2 separate regions of the Homo sapiens genome follow, and region 1 is linked to region 2. Evidence: fine-mapped expression QTL. A gene starts in region 2. The other region holds a variant in brackets. All regions are shown on one strand. Distances are between the middles of the regions. Region 1 holds the start of ASB6 (ankyrin repeat and SOCS box containing 6). Region 2 holds the start of C9orf50 (chromosome 9 open reading frame 50).

The links. PIP is the estimated chance that this variant, and not a neighbour inherited with it, causes the effect.
Region 1: its variant is fine-mapped to the expression of C9orf50 in thyroid (GTEx, PIP above 0.99).

Annotation. Positions count from the first base shown.
Region 1 is chr9:129,638,781-129,649,532 of GRCh38, forward strand. It overlaps ASB6 (ankyrin repeat and SOCS box containing 6), which reads right to left and starts at 3,371. Exons shown (of 6, transcript NM_017873.4): 1 at 3,107-3,371; 2 at 1,761-1,942; 3 at 622-728; 4 at 422-530. The coding sequence starts at 3,219. RefSeq lists enhancers at 1,317-1,874, 1,875-2,431, 8,605-9,353 and a silencer at 3,138-3,737. The variant A/G (reference allele first, on the strand shown) is at 5,818.
Region 2 is chr9:129,617,217-129,625,216 of GRCh38, forward strand. It overlaps C9orf50 (chromosome 9 open reading frame 50), which reads right to left and starts at 3,885. Exons shown (of 7, transcript NM_199350.4): 1 at 2,851-3,885; 2 at 2,524-2,614; 3 at 2,304-2,420. The coding sequence starts at 3,358. It also overlaps a transcript of NTMT1 not described here. RefSeq lists enhancers at 3,347-3,997, 6,868-7,007, 7,018-7,067.

The DNA of each region.
Region 1 (10,752 bases), 23 kb after region 2:
TCTCAGCTCAGGTGAGGGCTGAGGGTGACAGGCTTCTGGCCATTCCCTTTCCACCCAGAGAAGTGGGAGCGGAAAGGCCAGGAAAGGTAGGATTTTTCTGGACCCCAAGATGCTACCTGAGATGTTGGCTGGGCCTCTCCCAATGGGAAGCCATTGTTTCTTGGAAACTAAGTGCACACATGCCCTATTTCTTCCTATAGAAGGCCCTTGAGGGCCAGCACAGGGACAATGACTGCACTGCCTCTCTGAAGCCTCTGAGCTCAGCAAGTCAGCAGAATCCCTGTGTGCCCAGCCATGCTGTGCCACCAGCCAGGGCCAGCATCCAGTCTGCCCACCTAGCTGTTGTCCTGGGGCACCCTGGGTGTCCCCCACAAGGTGCCTGGGGGCCCAGCTGTCCTGCTTTCCTGCAGGAGGCACCCACCATGCTTGTCAGCGGCATTGACATCAGCTCCAAGGTCCAGGAGGCGCTGCAGGCAGGGCAGGCGCTCAGGCTCCTCGCTGGCCAGGTCCAAGGGGCTACTCTCGTGGATCTGAGCCAAGGAAGCACAGCCAGGTTGGCTTGGGAAGCTGCTCAGGCCCCTGCCCAACCCTGCTTCAAAGCAAGCTGGACCTGGCACTTACCCGGTCCCTCCGATTAACGTCGGCCCCGTGATGCACCAGCAGCTCCACCATGTCCGGCTGGTTCCGCAGGACGGCGATGTGCAAGGCCGTGTAGTAGGTGACTGGGTCTGAAGGTGCAGACACAGCTCATGTGGGTCCTATCTGTCCGCATTCTTATGGGGCCCCCGGACCCAGAGCCCAGCCCCAAACTCCCACCTAAAGTGTCCAGAAGCACAGGCCCAGCCTCCTGTCACCATCAAGGGTTAGGACAGAGCTGTCCTCACCAGATACTAGAGGGCCCTCGGGGTGTTCTAGTGGGCACGCTACTGAAGCTGTTGGGGGCTTTAGTTTCCTCTTCTGTAAGAAGGGACCATAAAACGGGGCGCACCCTCTCAGAATGGCTGGGAGGCCGCGCTACACAGCAGCTCTGGCGGCTCTGCTTTGTAGGCCTGGTGGTAACAGCCAGGTTCTCCAAGCTGGTCTCCAAGTCACTGGCTTCAGAACCGGCCCTCCCGTCTCAGCTCCTTGACCCTCCAGGAGCCCAGCAGACTCCAAGCCCGTCTTCGGATGGGGAAAGGAGACGTGCCTGGCTGTCTCAGGCCCCTATTAGGTCACAAGGCAGCCCTGCCTGTCTGCCGACTAACCCTGCCCTCCCTGGGCTGAAAAACACAGAGAAAGGAGCTCGGCTCCATCTCCATCCCTGGCACTCAGGAGCCAGGAGCCAGGGTGTCCTGTGGTGATTTATGCCTAATGCAGCCTGTTTTCCCCTCTCCCTACGGCATGAGAAAAAAAAAAACAAATTGGCTCAGAGTAAGTAGCAGAAAATTACCTTCCCTTAGCTCTGGGCACAGTGCCAGCAGCCGCATTTTTGCATTAATGGAAGTGGGGATTAATCTGGGAGCTGGGGAAAGTTTGCTAATCAATCACATGGTAGAAGCAGCAACACTCGCTCTTGGAACAGAGGTGGGAAGAGCCATGTGAAAACCCGCAGGGGGTGGGAGGCCACCCAATGGGAGTTTCCTTAGTTGCAGCCACCCAGGAAATAAAGGGGGGGAAGTCACTCCTCAGAGGATGGTAGAAGCCAAGGCTGGGGACATGGGCGCCCACCCAGCGTCGGGCCGCGTTTAAGCCACCTGCCCACCCCCGGGGCTCTCGCTGACCTTCAAAGTTGAGATTGGCCCCATGCCGCAAGAGAACGTCGGCCGCCCGCGTCAGCCCCAGCTCAGCCATCTTGAGCAGGGCGTTGCTCACGCCTTCCTGGTAAAAGGGAGAGTGGGCTTTCCTCTCCAGCAGCTCAGTGAGAACAAGGATTCGGCTCTCCTCGCTGGCGACATAACTGGGCCTGGGACAGGAGAGAGGCTGAGGGTAGGCACAGCTGTGGGACCGGGTGACCGCGCAGCCTGTGGGTTGGTGGGCTTTAGTCCTGCTATCATCATCAGCAAGCAGGGCCCTGGCTCTGTGGGTCACAGGGGCTTGGGGGAAGCTCTGAAGTAGAGAGAGGGCCACGCTGCATCTCTTAATACGGGAGCAGACTGGGATTTGCGGAGAATGGGCTGGGTCTGTCTGCGCTCTCCTCCCGCGTTGCCCAGAGTCCGGTCGCAGACTTAGGTACAAAGCCTCACACACCTGGGCTGCTGGGACTGAAGGGACCACCAGCCTGGAGGCCAAGAGCCCAAGCCCGACTTTGATGCTTCTTCCTCAGAAAGCCCTTCCATCCTCAAACCCGCAGGACCCCAGCCCCGGCAACACCTGCAGCCAGGACAGCAACACAGCCTCCTCCCTCCCCTCACATTGAGACCTTCAGCTGATATTGATGAAGAAAGCCTACGTTTCCACCAGAGTCCCTGGATGGCGAGACTCATCATTACCACGTGTTGGAAATACCAACTGACAACCCCCTCAACACCTGAGCCGAGCCCCTTCCTTCTGCTCTCCCCTCCCTTCCACCTCGCGTGCCGCCGTACAATTACTTGTCAGTCTCTCCTCTGGAGCACATGCGCCAAGAAGGCGGGGGTTTTGCTGAGCCACTGATGGACCCCAGGTGCCTAGTACCATGGGCAGTGAATGCAGATTCGCTCCCGACCCCTTTCCTGCAGGTCCACGACAGACCAGCTCTTGTCTATAAAAACGCAAACTCTGCTACAAAAGCCCACCTTCACACTGCTCTGGGGTAACATCTGAGGCCTCACGGATTCCACCCTGCTCCTCTGCCACGCCGGGGGGTGGCACAGGACAGGCAGGCGACAGGGTGGGGCTGAGGCGCAGGCCCTGCGACAACCCGCGGGCCTCCGCCCTCGGGCCCTCCCCGCCCTTCGTCTCCGCCATGCAAGGGGCAGGAGTGGGATCCGCGCGGGGCAGCGCGCACTCCGAGCCACGCAACCCCGGCTTCCGCCCGTCCCTTCCTCTGTCAAGGGGGACGCATCCACCCCGCCCGGCTTGTGGTGATAAAGTGGGACGCTGCGGGGTCGGAGCGGCCTCGGCCAGCTCACGGGAGGGGGTGAGTTACCGGTCCAGAGACTCCTGCCGCTCGGGGTCCTGGATCCCCAGGGAGCCCAGAATCGCATCCACCAGCGGCTGGTACTCGAAGATGATCCTCCGGAAGCCGTGCAGGAACGGCATCGCCGCGGGCCCCGCGCAGCAGGGCCGTCGCGCTTTCTGCCGAGGCCGAGATGCCCAGACGCCGACCGGAACGCTCCGGCGGCCGCGGACCCCACCTGCTCCGCCAGTCCAGCCCCTGCGCCCGGCCGGGTCCGCTCCTCAGTCCAAGCCGCGCCCCCGCCGGAAGTGACCCTCGTACTTCCTGCCCGCGCCGACTCAGGGTGGGCCATATGGCGACAGCGCCCCCTGCGGGCTCGGAGGACCTCGGCGCGTCCTGGGGCACGACCGCCAGGCCGACTCGGGCGATGTCCAGTGGGCGGCCCCAGCGGAGTGGGAGAGTGGAGGATCGAGCCAAGCCAGATCCGAGACTCAGGCGGGTCCGCCCCTTCCTGCCAGGGCCCGGCCCGGCTCGGCTTCGCCCTGCGATCCCGCCCGCGACCGCTGGGCGCCGTCCGAGTTCCGCCGGTCGTGCTCTCGGCCCTGCCGCTGCCCCACTGGCCCTGGGCGCCCCTGAGAGCTGTGGTCATCAGACACTGCCCCTTCCGGTTCGGGCTGGCCCTCGCCTTCCCTGAAGAGGGGCTGGGCCACCTCTGTCACCACCCGGCCCGCTGACTGGAATGATGAGGACCAGGGTACTCGCACGTCCCCTCCTCAGTTTCTTATTCTCTGTCCCGGGGAGCACCTGGCCAGGACGGCTGCTAGCCCTCTCCACCTCTGCCTTGATGGACTCAGTGAATCTTGTTTTTTGTTGTTGTTGTTTTTGTTTTTTTGGGGGACGTAGTCTCGCTCTGTTGCCCAGGCTGGAGTGCAATGGCACGATCTCGGCTCACTGCAACCTCCGCCTCCCGGGTTCAAGCGATTCTCCTGCCTCAGCCTCCCGAGTAGCTGGGATTACAGGCGCTGGCCACCACGCCCAGCTTATTCTTGTATTTTTAGTAGAGACAGGGTTTCACCATATTGGCCAGGCTGGTCTCGAACTCCTGACCTCGTGATCCTCCCACCTCGGCCTCCCAAAGTGCTGGGATTACAGGCATGAGCCACGGTGCCCAGCCCGAATCTTGTGTATTTTTTAGAGACAGGGTCTCACTCTGTCTCCCAGGCTGGAGTGTAGTGTAGTGATCATGACTCACTGCAGCTTTGAACCCCTGGGCTCAGGTGATCCTCCCGCCTCAGCCTCCCGAGAAGCTGGGAACACAGGAGTGTGCTACCGCCTGTCTCTGAACTTGGATTTCCTCATCTGTAAAATGGGTAGAATCCCCAGCACTTTGAGAGGCCGAGGCAGGTGGATCACCTGAGGTCAGAAGTTCGAAGCTGCAGACCGGCCTGGCCAATATGATGAAACCCTGTCTCTACTAAAAATACAAAAATTACCCGGGCGTGGTGGCAGGCGCCTGTAATCCCAGCTACTTGGGAGGCTGAGGCAGGAGAATTGCTTGAACCCGGGAGGCGGAGGTTGCAGTGAGTGGAGATCGCACCATCACACTCCAGCCTGGGCAATAAGAACGAAACTCTGTCTCAAAAAGAAAAAAAAAAAGTATAATCACACTCACCTGAGATGCTGGAGCCAGCGCACTGTAATTGTTGGTGGAAGTGGAATTCAGTGGGAAGGAGCCAAAACCCTCTGGTTCAGGAAGAAGGGGCGGAGTGGGCAGCCGGGTTTAAGCCCCTTTAGGGCAACACCAGCTTGGGCTTCCTAGAAGCAGCTCCAGGCCGCAGAGTCCACAGCTGCCAGCACGTTTCTGCCTTGGTTCTCGCTGTAGGAAAGAAATTTCTCCCTGGGTGAAATCGGGAAATTCTGCTCACATGGAAATGGACATTTCCAGCTTGCCTTGGAAAAACCACTTTTCTGGAGTCGAGGCACCTCCCCTTGGGCCATGCATTTGAGCCTCCTCTCCCACCTGGAGTCTGCGTGGGGGGGCCTTGATGCCTTCTTGCTTCTGGGAAGCTGATGATGAAGAGGGGTTTCCCGCCCCAGCAGTCCACATCACAGCGTTGGCCTCCTGGGCCTTGCTCTGCCAAGTTGGGCCCCTCTCCCTGGAACCTGCCAGACAGCGAGAGTTGCCCAGCCCAGGAAAAAAACATTTAAAGGCGCATTTCAAGACAATCCGATGGGTCTTAGAGTAAACATTTTTATATTTATTTATTTATTATTATTATTATTATTATTTTTCAGACGGAGTCTCACTCTGTTGCCTAAGCTGGAGTGCAGTGGCAGGATCTCGGCTCACTGCAACCTCCAACCCCTGGGTTCAAGCCTACCAGGTAGCTGGAATTACAGGCATGCGCTACCACGCCAGGCTAATTTTTGTATTTTTAGTAGAGACGGGGTTTCACCATGTTGGCCAGGCTATTCTCGAACTCCTGACCTCAGGTGATCCACCCGCCTCAGCCTCCCAAAGTACTGGGCTTACAGACGTGAGCCCACCACGCCCAGCCAGATGAAACATTTTTAAATGGGCAGAGTAAGGCCCTCTACCATGTGCAAAACAAACTGTACAAGAAAACCCAAAGCAACGAGCCTCAACCGGCAAGGTTGAGGGTGTGGCAGCAGCGGCTGGTAACTGCTGGCTCTGGTTGTTAAAGCTGTTGTCAGATCCAATGACAGGCTCTCGGAAAACC[A/G]CCTCCGACGCCAGGCATTCAGAGTGCCTCAGTTTGCTTCCTCTTCCATTACCTAAAGGAGTAGGAAGGAGGGGTGGGGGTGGGCAGCTGGGTTCAAGACCCTTTAAGGCAACACTAGCTTGGGCGTCCCAGAAGCAACTGCAGACTACGAGGGCCCACGGCTCCCCACACATGTCTGCCTTGATTCTTGCTGAGGGAAAGAAGTATCTTCCTGAGGGAAATCGGGACATTTTGCTCCCAGGGAAATGGAGATTTTCCAACTTGCCTTGTAAAAATCAGAAGGGCCCAGATTCTTACCAGACAGCGATTTGCATCCAGATGGGGTGCTTGCCCTGGGTGCACCTGCCTGGGCATGACTCTGAGCGTTTGGAAGTGTCTGCCCCTGCTTGAAGGGTCCCCCTCAATGGATCGCGAGGCCCTGAACGGTACAGCCGCTCTCAGGCGACCCAGGTCTTCACAGCCCCTCTCTCGTTTGATCACACAACACATTTGATCACGTGACACCATGCCCGTGTTGAGTCAGGCCTCGGTCTCCTCACCTATGTGATGGCCTTTGGCCCTCAACCCTCAGGAGACGGAGGCCTGACTTACCCAAGGGCGCATGGTGAGTAACTGCGGGAGGTGCAGTCCCGTGGGGTCCCGGTGGAGCTGGGTGGGCTGACTTCGTCTGAGCCCTGCTTTTGCCCTAGGGCTGCTATAACAAGGTGCTGCAGACCTGATGGCTTAAAACAACAGAAATTCACTCCTTTACAGTTCTGGAGGCGGAAAGGTCAAATTCAAGGTGTGGGCAGGGCCACGCTCCCTCCAAAGACTCCAGAGAAGGTCCCTTTCTTGCCTCTCCCACTCCTGGTGACCACAGGGGTACCTCGGCTTGGGACAGCAGCACCCCAGTGTCCACCTTCCTCTGTCTCCACACAGCCTTCTTCCTGCTGTCTATGCCACTGTCCAAATCCCCCGCTCCCTTCTTTTTCTTTTTCTTTTTTGTTTTGTGTTTTGAGACAGAGTCTCGCACTGTCGCCAGGCTGGAGTGCAGTGGTGCGCGTGTGCCACCACCCTCAGCTAATTTTTTTTTGTATTTTTAGTAGAGACAGGGTTTCACCATGTTGGCCAGGATGGTCTCGATCTCTTGACCTTGTCATCCGCCCGCCTCTGTCTCCCAAAGTGCTGGGATTATAGGCGTGAGCCACCGTGCCCAGCCTTCCCCCTCCTTTCTAAATGGGCATGGGTCACTGGATTTATAGGGCGCACCCAAATCCATTATGGCCACATCTTAATTTGATTACATCTGCAAAACCCCTTTTTCTGAACGAGGTCACGTTCCAGGCACCAGGACTAGGACTGGAACATATCTTTTTGGGGAGCACACATAAACCCACTGTCACGAGTGACCCTAGGCATGGCCCTTCTGGTCTCTGGGCCTCAGTTTCCTCACCTATAACCTGAGGGCCCTCCCAGCTCTGACAGTCTTGGAGCCAATGACGAACTCCTTGACGTGGCTGGTGGGCTCCGCCGACAGAGAAGGAGTGAGGAGGGGGCCATTATAATAACAACAACACGAGCCCACTTGTATTTACGGAGACCCTTGTACATGCCAGGCACTAGATATGCTGAATGTTTGGTGCACTGATCTCCCTAAATCCTGTTAAGTAGGTGATATTATTACCCCATTTTACAAAGAAACGGGCTCAGAGAGGTTTGGGCGCTTGTCCCAGGCTGCACTGTGAGGTTGGGCCTCCAGCCCCGGTCGGTGCAACTTTTCCACGCTTCCTGCCTCCGAGACTCGAGTGTCCTCAGCTCCTCCAGCTCTGGGCTCACGAGTCTGGACATGCAGGAGGGGGAGCTAACCCCCGCCCTCTCACAGCCCTGGGGCACCACCCTGTGGGGCTGGCCCTGCTGCCTGCCCGCCGCCCAGGCTCCTAACTTTAGAGGGCTTTGTGCCCCCTGACCTCCCTCCTGTCAGCAAGGGCAGACTTGTTTCCTCCATCTGCCTCCCATTAGGGCTCTGTCACTCAGAGCCCCTGGTTCCAGCTCTCCGCTTCTCTCTCTTTTCCTTGTCACTGCCACTCACCGCCTGGCCAGCCCAGCCCCTTCCTGCCACCCACCTCCAGAGATCTTCAGCAGGATGGGGGTCCTGGGGACAAGGACCCAGAGCTCAGCCCTGTCCCTGCCTCCTAGTCCTCGGGGAGTTTGGGAGTCACTCCGACTCGTCAATGTACAGAGGGGGATGACCTTAATATATAAAGAGCTGCTAAAAATCAACAACAAGAAGGCAAAAACACCAATAAAAACATGGGCAAAGGACATGCACAGGCAAGTCACGAAGGATGAAAAATGGTCAAAAAACAGGGATAGACACTCAGCCTCTCCTGCGGTCCAACAATGATGGTAGCTGGTAACACGTGGGGTCCTTCTCTATAACAATCCAACAGAGCCCATTACAGAATAGCAGGTACCATATGGTCCCATTTAGGAAAATGTGTGTGTGCACGTGTGTGTGTGTGTGTGTGTGCAGGAATCATTCTTGAACGCCCCATGCTGAGATGTTAATGGTGGTTGTTTTGGGTGTTGGGATCTGGGAATTTTTACTCTTCTTTGTATGTGGATATATTTCCTCTTTTTTCTCCAATGAGTGTGTCTTACCTGAGACTTATTAATAAAACATTATGTAAGCCCAGGGCAGAGAATCAGGCCCTGACACCCCTCCTGGGGTTGAAGGCAGGCCCTGAACACCAGCAGGGGGTCCAGGCCTGTCCATAAAGCCTTCTCCCTCTCCCAGCCCATGGACTGACAGCCTCCTCCTCAGCACGCAGGCCACTCACCCTTGAGGTCCCCTCAACCTGGACTAGCGCTTCGCTCACTTTCCTCCCGAGTGGCCGTGAGTCCACCCGCCCACCCGCCCAGGCTGGCTGTAGGAATGGCCAATCGGCAGCAACTGTGGTCTCTGCTCGAGTGTGTCCTACTCCCATGCATTCAGTAAGAAGCTCAACAAGTCTCATCAGTTCATCGCGACACCCCAGGAAGTGACCCCAGGACTCTGGTGTCAGAGTCTAGGAGAGATGGCTGACCAAGCCAAGGTCAGTGAGTGAGGGGCCCAGGGAGGGGGCTTCACACCCAGGGCCTGGCTTCCAACCCCTACTGGAGCCCCACAAAGCGCGTACTCACACTTGCACACACACCACTCAAATACACTCCCACACGCTCACATGCACCCCACACACCACTCACACACACACCACTCAAATACACGCACACACGCTCACACGCACCACACACACCACCCACACACCACACACACACACCACTGAAATACACTCACACACGCTCACACGCACCACACACACACACCACTCACACACACCACTCACACACGCCACTCACACACGCCACTCACACACATACACACCACTCACACACACACCACTCACACACACACACCACTCACACACATACACACCACTCACACACACACCACTCACACACACACCACTCACACACACACCACTCACACACAACCACTCACGCACACACATCACTCATGCACACTAGCACACACACCACTCACTCATACGCACCACTCACACTCACATACCACTTACACACCACTCACCCATACACACACCAACATACACCACTCATACACCACTGTAACACACACTACTCACACATACGCCACTCACACCACACACATACACCACTCTCACACACACGTGCCAGGCTGGGCAGCTCCAGGGAGGAGTGGTCTGGCCCCATCCCAGCACCTTCGCCCTCCACGGTGCCTGCTGTCTCCCCAGGAGGGGCTGTCGGCTGCCAGGCCTGTCCCTTAGAAGGCCCTGGAGGGGGAGAATTAGGGAACCCCTGCCTTTTATTTCTTCTCTTTTTTTGATTGGCGGCATTTCCATAAAGTGAGATATTTAGAAACATACACATCACCACAAGGACCATTTCAGAGCCTCCAACTTCAGCCCCCGGGCAAGTCCCCAGGGCACCGGGACAGACGAGGGCCCGGCATATTTCTGAAGTGTGGTCATGGAAGTGCCGCCCTCCGCTTCCCCCCCTTCTGCCCTTCTTCTCCTGCCTGGCTCCCCGCTCCTTTCCTTTCCTCCTCCCCCCACACCCTGACCCCACCCTGACCCCCGACCCTCATGACCCAAGAGTGTCCCTGCAGGAGGCCCAGCCTGCCTGTTCCTGCCACAGTCCTCAGGCTGGAGGGGCAGGGCCTGGATTCCTGGGTTCCCAGAGGCCTAAGAGTCTGTCTGCTCAGGGGAGAAACTGAGGTAGCAGGGGCTGGAGCAGGGGCCGTGCGGTGGGGCCGTGTGGCAGGACAGTGGCCGGGCCAGCGAAGGGCTTTTTCTGTCCCCTCCCTTATTCTGTTTACTGTCCTAAGAAGCACCAAGGAGCATTTCGGGGGCCCCAACCCCCAGGGCGACAAGCCCCAGAGACCTCTGTGCTTCTGATGGCCGGGCTTGCTTTCCCCTCCCTACCCGCCCCCACCAGGAAGCCCTCCCTGCCGGCCAGAGCCCCCTACTCCGGCACAGACACTGCCAGGTGGTTCCTGGTGCTTGGTCCAAGGGCGGGGCCTGTGACAGCCAGGTAAGGGTGGGGCCAGGCCCCAGTGAAGCCCCCAGGTGGGCAGCCCAGAGCCTGGGACGGGATGCCGCAGGACCCCTCTTTCTCTACTGTTCCCCCATGCCCACATGGAAGGCCCTGCCTGGTCCCCGCCTCTCCCAGGTGAGGTAAGTCAGCAGCCCAGAGCAGGGTGGGAAGGTGCTGAGCGCCCCGGGGGTCTCGCCCTGCGTCTGGAGGGAGGCTGGGGCCTGGACTTTGGCCTGGGCCTCTCTCAGCCTCACTGCCCATCTGCACACGAAGGGGTGGGCCCAGGGTTCCCCTAAATTTCTTTCTACCCCAGAAGTCAAGGGTCCTACTGAGAGCCTAGCA
Region 2 (8,000 bases):
ATGTCTGTGTAGATGCAGAGGGAATGCTTTTCATCAGCCTCCAAAGAGCCAAGCAGTTGGGAGGTGTCAGGACAGTGCCTGGCTACATGCCTTGGGACCTAGTCATCTAACAGTTGTCTGCTCAGGAACCCCTGCTCTCTGCTGGCTGCTGGGCCAGGCAAAGGCATAACCCAGCTCTGCCCACCTGCCTGAAATCTCAGCATCTTCACTCGAGGGCCACTGGAGCCTGTTCTGAGGCACCACAGTGTCCCCTGCAGGGCCTACCAGGGAATCTCACACACAGTAAGGTGCTCAAGTATTTGCTCTTGAATGTGAAAGTCTGTAACTGTGTTTGTCTCTGCTTTTGCTCACATTTGAGAGAATGAATTCCATACTTTTATTTATTTGTATCTTGTGAGAAGTCATGTGTATATTTGGCCTGATTGGTTGAACGTTCTGAGGTTGGTAAATGTGTTTCACTGTTTTTGTTTGTTTGTTTGTTTTTTGAGACAGGGTCTTGCTCTGTCACCCAGGCTGGAGTGCAGTGGCACGATCTTGGCTCACTGCAGCCTCAACCTCCCAGGCTCAAGCAATCCTCCCACCTCAGCCTCCCGAGTAGCTGGAACCACAGGCATGCACCACCACGCCCAGCTAATTTTTGTAATTTTTGTAGAGACAGGGTTTCACCATGTTACCAAGGCTGGTCTCAAACTCCTGGGCTCAAGCGATCCTCCTGCCTCAGCCTCCCAAAGCACTGGGATTATAGGCATGAGCCACCATGCTTGGCCATGTGTTCCATTTCTAGTTCCTACCCTGATCCATCAGGAGTATCTACCTAGAGTACTGTGTGAGGAATGGTTCTGAGGCTCAGTGGGGAAATATGATCCATTAGTTTTGTCTGCTGTGGGTATGAGATGAGGAAGAATGATATGTTTGTGATGTATTTACTCTCCCTGGTCTTTAAACTCATGGGCAGTGCCATTCACCCTTCACCCCTGCTTAAGCCTGGAGGAATTTTAACCTGGAGGAACTGTTTCTGTCTTCTTTTCCTCCTCTGTTAAAACTATGGTGTCTAGGCCCAGGTAGGTTCCAATTCCTAGGCTCTTCTCTTACCTCCATCCCTTAGTTTTCTCCCAATATTCAACATATAGTAAAACCTAATAAAAGTTAGAGTAAGAAATGGACAAATGATGGTGGGATGGGTAAAATGATGGAAGACTGGGTGGGTGGGTTGATGGGTGGATGGACTGATGGGTGAGTTAATGAAAGGGTCTGAATAGAACTGAACTATGAATGTATGGGTAGATGGACAGATGCGTGGCTGGATGATTATGTAGATGGGTATGTAGGTTTGTGGATGGCTTTATGACTAGATTAGCGATGGACAGTGTCCTGGGTTTACAAGTGGATGGAAGGATTTGTAGATGGTTGGTCATTGGATCAATGGATGGATGGATAGAAGTGTGGGAGTTTTATTTTTTATTTATTTTATTTTATTTTATTTCATTTTTATTTGAGATGGAGTCTCACTCTGTCACCCAGGCTGGAGTGCAATGGCACAATCTCAGCTCACTGCAAGCTCCGCCTCCCGGGTTCACACCATTCTCTCGCCTCAGCCTCCCGAGTAGCTGGGACTACAGGCGCCCGCCACCACGCCCGGCTAATTTTTTGTGTTTTTTTTTTTTTTTTTGTATATTTTTAGTAGAGACGGGGTTTCACCGTGTTATCCAGGGTGGTCTCAATCTCCTAACCTCGTGATCCGCCCACCTCAGCCTCCCAAAGTGCTGGGATTACAGGTGTGAGCCACCGTGCCCTGCCGAAGTGTGGGAGTTTTAGATGGATGACTGGCTAGCTGGTTGGCCAGGTAGATGAATGGATCCACAGGACACCTGATTCATGGGTGGGTGGGTGAGTGAATGTATGGATGGATGGAGTCATGGGTCCATGATAGATTAATGGGTGGACAGAAGGATGGATGGATAGATGGAGAGATTCATGAACGGGTTGTAGAAGACTTGGTTCATGGATGAGATGGATGCAAAGATGGATGGGTGAATGGGAAAATGAATATATGAATAGATTCATGGATGAATTATGTGTTGGTAGAAGACCTCATTAATGGATGGGTTGATTCATTGATGAACTGGCGAATGAATCTTGAATGGGTTGGTAGAAGATCTGATTCACGGACAGCCATATGTAAGGATGGATGAATGGGTAGATAGGTGGATAAATGAATACATTCATGGGCGAAAGAGGAAAGAAAGAAGGAAAGAAATGCCCCTTTCCTCCACTACCCTACCCTTATCCCGCCCATCACTCACTGGTTGGCCTTTCTGACAGTGGTGAATTGTGAGTGATCACCCTTCAGGGGCCCCAGAATAGGTGTCTGCTGGAGCGAAATCTTCGTAAGACTATCCTGGAGGTGCGATGACTGGCCCCTTAAAGACAAACAGGCCACATCTGGCATGAGTGGCCAGGCTGTCCCGCCCTGGAAACATCGATGGCAACCCCGTCCCCACCAAGAAGCGGACTGACGCTTACCACAGGTCTGGGAGGAATGAACAGTTGGGACACCGCGGAGACCCTGGGCAGTGCTCTAATACACCCCTTTGATGTTGCGGTGCTGGGGATGCTGGAGCCAGGAGGAAACAGTTGTGAGCCTTGGCTGGGGGACGGTCCTTTCTAGTCATGTGGCCTCGGGGTGATGGCAGACCAGCCCTCAAGGACGGGTTGCGAGGGCTCTGAGATACTCAGCTAACATTAGCATCCTTCTAGCCTGGGTGGTGGGGTGGTGGGTGCGGGGACACAAGGGACCACCCCCCACCGGAAATGACTCGGGCCCGCCCCCCGGGCCCCGCGGGGCCTCACTCAGTGGCTCCGGCTCCTCGGCGCACTTCTCCTGGAGCTGGTGCAGGAACTCACGGAACCTGCTGGGGAGGAGCTCTCCTAGGAAGGCGCCCAAGAAGTCGGGGTCCTCCCTGGCCACGCGCCTCCGGGGGCGCTCGCGCTCTCCAGGCCCTGGCTGCCTGGGCGCCGATTCCCGGGACGCGCCGGCCGACAGCAGGGGAGGCGGCAGCAGGGACCGCAGCAGCCCCCGCTTCCGCACGGCCCGCCGGGTCGCGGTGAGCAAGGCGGGCAGGCGCGGCGGGAGGCGTCCGACGCCCACCCCGGGCTTGGCGTCCCCTTCCGGCCACCACGCGGCGCCGCCCCCCGGGATCCTCCAGTCCCCGGAGCCCCGCGCGCCCAGAGCCGCTCGGAGCGCGGGCGGGGTCAGCTTGGGCAGCCGCGGGTCGCTGCTGCGTCGGAAGTCTCCGTCGCCAGGGAGCCCCTTGGGCGCCAGGTCCTGGGCCCCTGGGCGAAGTCGACGCCAGAACATGCTTGGCCCCGCACTCAGCTCACCGCACCCTCAGCGCGCGTGGGTGGGGGGCGCCGGCTGAGGTGGGGAGGGCATAGTCCAGCCCCAGGCCATAGTGCCCCGGGCGGGGCAGCGCGGTGCGGGGTGAACGCCACCGGCCCGGCGGACAGCGAGTGGCTTCAGGCGAGAGCTCCCAGAGCCTCTGTTTCCTCACCTGAAAAATGGTGACAGCAAGAGTAGCCAACTTTGGGGGTTGCTGTGACGTTTAAATGAGCAAGTACATGCCAGTCTTAGAACAGCAAGCTCGGTACAGTGCCAGGCACGCTGGCCAAGCTTACACATAGACTAGCTGCCATTCTTAGTATTTCAAAGTTATTATTATTTAGGATTTAGTCCCAGCTCCACCACTTATTAGCTTTGTAACCTTGGCCAAGCCAATTAACTTCCCTCTGCCTTCCCTGGGGGCTCTGGTCTGCAGAATGGGGATAATAGCAGCACCTGCCTCTCTGCAGCCGTGAAACGGCATCACCGCATCACCGCTGGTAGAGAGAGCACTTAGCCTGCCTTGCAGTGTTCAAAGCGTGGAACTGTTACCGTCATTAGCGCTCTACTGGGAATTAGGAAACCTGGAACCAGCTTGAGGGAAGAGAGACCTGACCAGCAGCCTCCCAGCCCTGGTGCTGCCTCAGAGACCCCTGGGTGGGGAGCCTGTTGAAAATACAGATGACTTACCCCCAGCCCCCATTCTGATTCAGTACGTCTCTGCTGGAGCCAAGACAGTTTGTTGTTCTTGTTGTTGTTGTTAAAGAGATGGGGTCTTGCTAAGACGGGGTCCTGCTGTCACCCAGGCTGGAGTGCAATGGCACCATCATAGCTCACTGCAGCCTCAAATTCTTGGGCTCAAGTGATCCTCCTGCCTCAGCCTCCTGAGTAGCTGGGACTACAGGCACACACCACCACAGTTGGCTAATTTTTGTATATTTTGTAGAAATGGGGTAGAATTTTTTTGTATTTATGTTGCACGGGCTGGTCTTGAACTCCTGGGCTCAAGTGATCCACTTGCCTTGGCCTCCCAAAGTGCTGGGATCACAGGCGTGAGTCCCCACTTCTGGCCAAGACACAGACTTTTAACAAACTCCCCCTTTGGGAGGCAGAGCCCCAGTCTTACTCCCAGCTCTGACACTGAGGGGTTTCTAAGCCTGCTTCCTCCCAACCACACCCCACTCCCAGATTGTTGTCAGCTCTGAGCTGACTCCTGGGCAGTGTCACACTCACCCTGGTGGGCTTCTGGGTGGGGCCCTAGAAGGTCCTGTGAGTTTAGAGCTCTCTACAGGCAGGCTGTAGAGCCCATCATCCCTGCCTGGTGCCTCTCCCAGCCCCTCCCGGCTGCCTCTGGGCCGCTTCAGGGTCATTGTGATCCGCCCCTCACCCCTGGGCATCTGAGTAGCAGTGGGCACTGAGGCCTGGGGACTAAGGGTGGGGCTATTGTGCCCTGGATGCCCTGGCCGCAGCCACCTGGGGCACTGGGACTCTGACCAGGGCAGCCAGGCCTACCCTTTCCAGATCTGGGAGGCTTAGGCTGGGTGGCTCTGGAAGTAGAACTTCCACCCCAAGACCAGGCAGTCAGAATACAATGGACCTAGAAATGAACAGACCCTGCGGGGCACGGTGTCTCACGCCTGTAATCCCAGCACTTTGGGAGGCCGAGGCGGGCGGATCACCTGAGGTCAGAAGTTCAATACCAGCCTGGCCAACATGGTGAAACCTCGTCTCTACAAAAAATACCAAAATTTGCCATGCATGGTGTTGTGCACCTATAATCCCAGCTACTTGGGAGGCTGAGACAGGAGAATCGCTTGACCCTGGGAGGCGGAGGTTGCAGTGAGCTGAGATCATGCCACTGCACTCCAGCCTGGGTGACAAAGCGAGACTCCATCTCAAAAATAATAATAATAATAATCCAAGGTCTGGGTGCTAGGTGTGCTTCTTGCTATTGAGATGTCATTTCTTTCAGGCAGTCTCAGCTGACAAAGAAATGTGTGTGTATACTATGAAACACACACATATCTATAAATATTTCTATAGGTAACCATCTGTACTTATATTAAGCTAAACATGAGCTCATGCTGACATCTCCAACTCTAATCCGTTACACAGATCATTTGAGACTCTGTCTCACAAAAAAAAAAGAGGCCAGGTTCCAGTGGCTCATACCTGTAATCCTAACACTTTGGGAGACCGAGGCAGGTGGATTGCCTGAGCTCAGGAGTTCGCAATCAGCCTGGGCCACATGGTGAAACCCCGTCTCTACTAAAATACAAAAAAATTAGCCGGGCGTGACAGCGTGTGCCTGTAGTCCCAGCTACTTGGGGGGCTGAGGTAGGAGAATTGCTTGAACCCGGGAGGCGGAGGTTGCAGTGAGCCGAGATCACGCCACTGCACTCCAGCCTGGGCAACAGAGTGAGACTCCATCTCCATAAAAAAAAAAAGAAAGAAAGAGCCGGGCACGGTGGCTCACGCCTGTAATCCCAGCACTTTGAGAGGACAAGGCGGGTGGATCATGAGGTCAGGAGATCGAGACCATCCTGGCTAACACGGTGAAACCCTGTCTCTACTAAAAATACAAAAAATTAGCTGGTTGTGGTGACGGGTACCTGTAATCCCAGCTACGCGGGAGGCTGAGGCAGGAGAATGGCGTGAACCCAGGAGGCGGAGCTTGCAGTGAGCGGAGATCGCGCCACTGCACTCCAGCCTGGGCGACAGAGCAAGATTCCATCTCAAAAAAAAAAAAAGAAGGAAGGAAGGAAGGAAGGAAGAAAAGAAATTAACAGACCCACTTTCAAGTCCATGGTCTGCTGTTTTGCTGTGTGATCCTGGAGAAGTGTCTTCTTTCTCAGGACTCCCTGGGCCTTATCTCTGAGTCTTGGCTGGGAGAGGGCCGAGAGGAAGCTCATAGTATTGTGAAGCTGGGGTGGGAGACAGAGGTCATTTACATGAGTATTTCACTGGCGTGGCATAGTTTCATAATTTGAAAATGAAGAAACGACTTTGTAATTCAAATAACAGAGTGACTCACTAGAGAACGCGTCGCCAAAGATATATTCTATTTTCTGTCAATGCTTCTCACCAGGGATGGAGGGACATACTTTCCTGGAGAGCTACAATATTGAGTGGGGGAGGGAGATATTTTTGTATTTATTTAAAGGGTATGTGTCTTTTTTAATGGCTGCGAAACACCAGATTAACTAGACGGTTTCTTTTTTTCTTTTCTTTTCTTTTTTTTTTTTTTGGAGACGGAGTCGCGATCTCAGCTCACTGCAAGCTCCGCATCCTGGGTTCACCCCATTCTCCTGCCTCAGCCTCCCGAGTAGCTGGGATTACAGGTGCCCACCACCACGCCCGGCTAATTTTTTTGTATTTTTAGTAGAGACGGGGTTTCACCGTGTTAGCCAGGATGGTCTCGATCTCCTGCCCTTGTGATCCACCTGCCTCGGCCTCCCAAAGTGCTGAGATTACAGGCGTGAGCCACTGCGCCTGGCCTAACTAGATGGTTTCTAAGGAGCCCTCCAGCCCTTGCACTCTGCAAATATTTATCAAGGAACTACTATGTGCTAGGCTTGGGAATTCAGAGATGCCAGAGGCTTTGAGGTCAGGGAGCCGGCCAGTCCTGGGAAGGCCTTGGAGCGTGGCTGTGGGGAAGGGGCTTGCTCTTCTGTTGACAGGAAATAAGACAGGGCTGGATTTTTAGGCATACAGAGAGCTTGGATCAGAGCTGCCCCCTGGCGGAGGATTCCGGACACCCCCACCGATTGAAATTGCCCAGGATCAATCCCTTTGCTTAAAGACACAGAAAATGAAGCTTGGGAGAGGGGCTCAGACCAGGGGTAGCAGTTGTGACCTAGAATAGTCTAGAGGGTATGCCAAATAAGATGCACATACACACATCCTGCGGACTCAATGCAGAAGGGGCTTTTTAGCATCCCCTTTCTACCGTAGCTTTCAACACATTTAGAGCAAACACACTTTAAGCACCTTCTGTGTGCGTCGCCCAGAGGAAGGAACACCAGGATAGTATTATTATTATTTTATTTTTGAGACAGAGTTTCGTTCTTGTCACCCAGGCTGGAAAGCAATGGCGCGATCTAGGCTCATTGCAACTTCTGCCTCCTAGGTTCAGGCTATTCTCCTGCCTCAGCCTCAGAGTAGCTGGGACTACAGGCATGCACCACCATCCCTGGCTAATTTTGTATTTTTAGTAGAGACGGGGTTTTGCCATGTTGGCCAGGCTGGTCTCAAATTCCTGACCTCAGGTGATCCGCCTGCCTTGGCCTCCCAAAATGCTGGGATTAGAGTCGTGCACCACCGTGCCCTGCCAACACAAGGATATTATTAATAGTATAGGAAAAATGAACTTAAGATGGATATTGTCATTATAACAGCTTCCATTTCCTGAGAACCCACTGCAGGTGCTGAGCTGAAGGTCTGACGTGCAATGTCCCACAAGTTTAACCCTCTCAGAGCATCAGAAGTTGAGTAATTATTACGTTGCTCAACTTCCTCTTCTGACAGGAGACTGAAGCTCGGAAATGTTAACAGGCTCTACCCACCTGCAAGCTCCCGTTTCCATCACCGCTGCCTCGGAGATAGCTCCAGAATTTCTTTG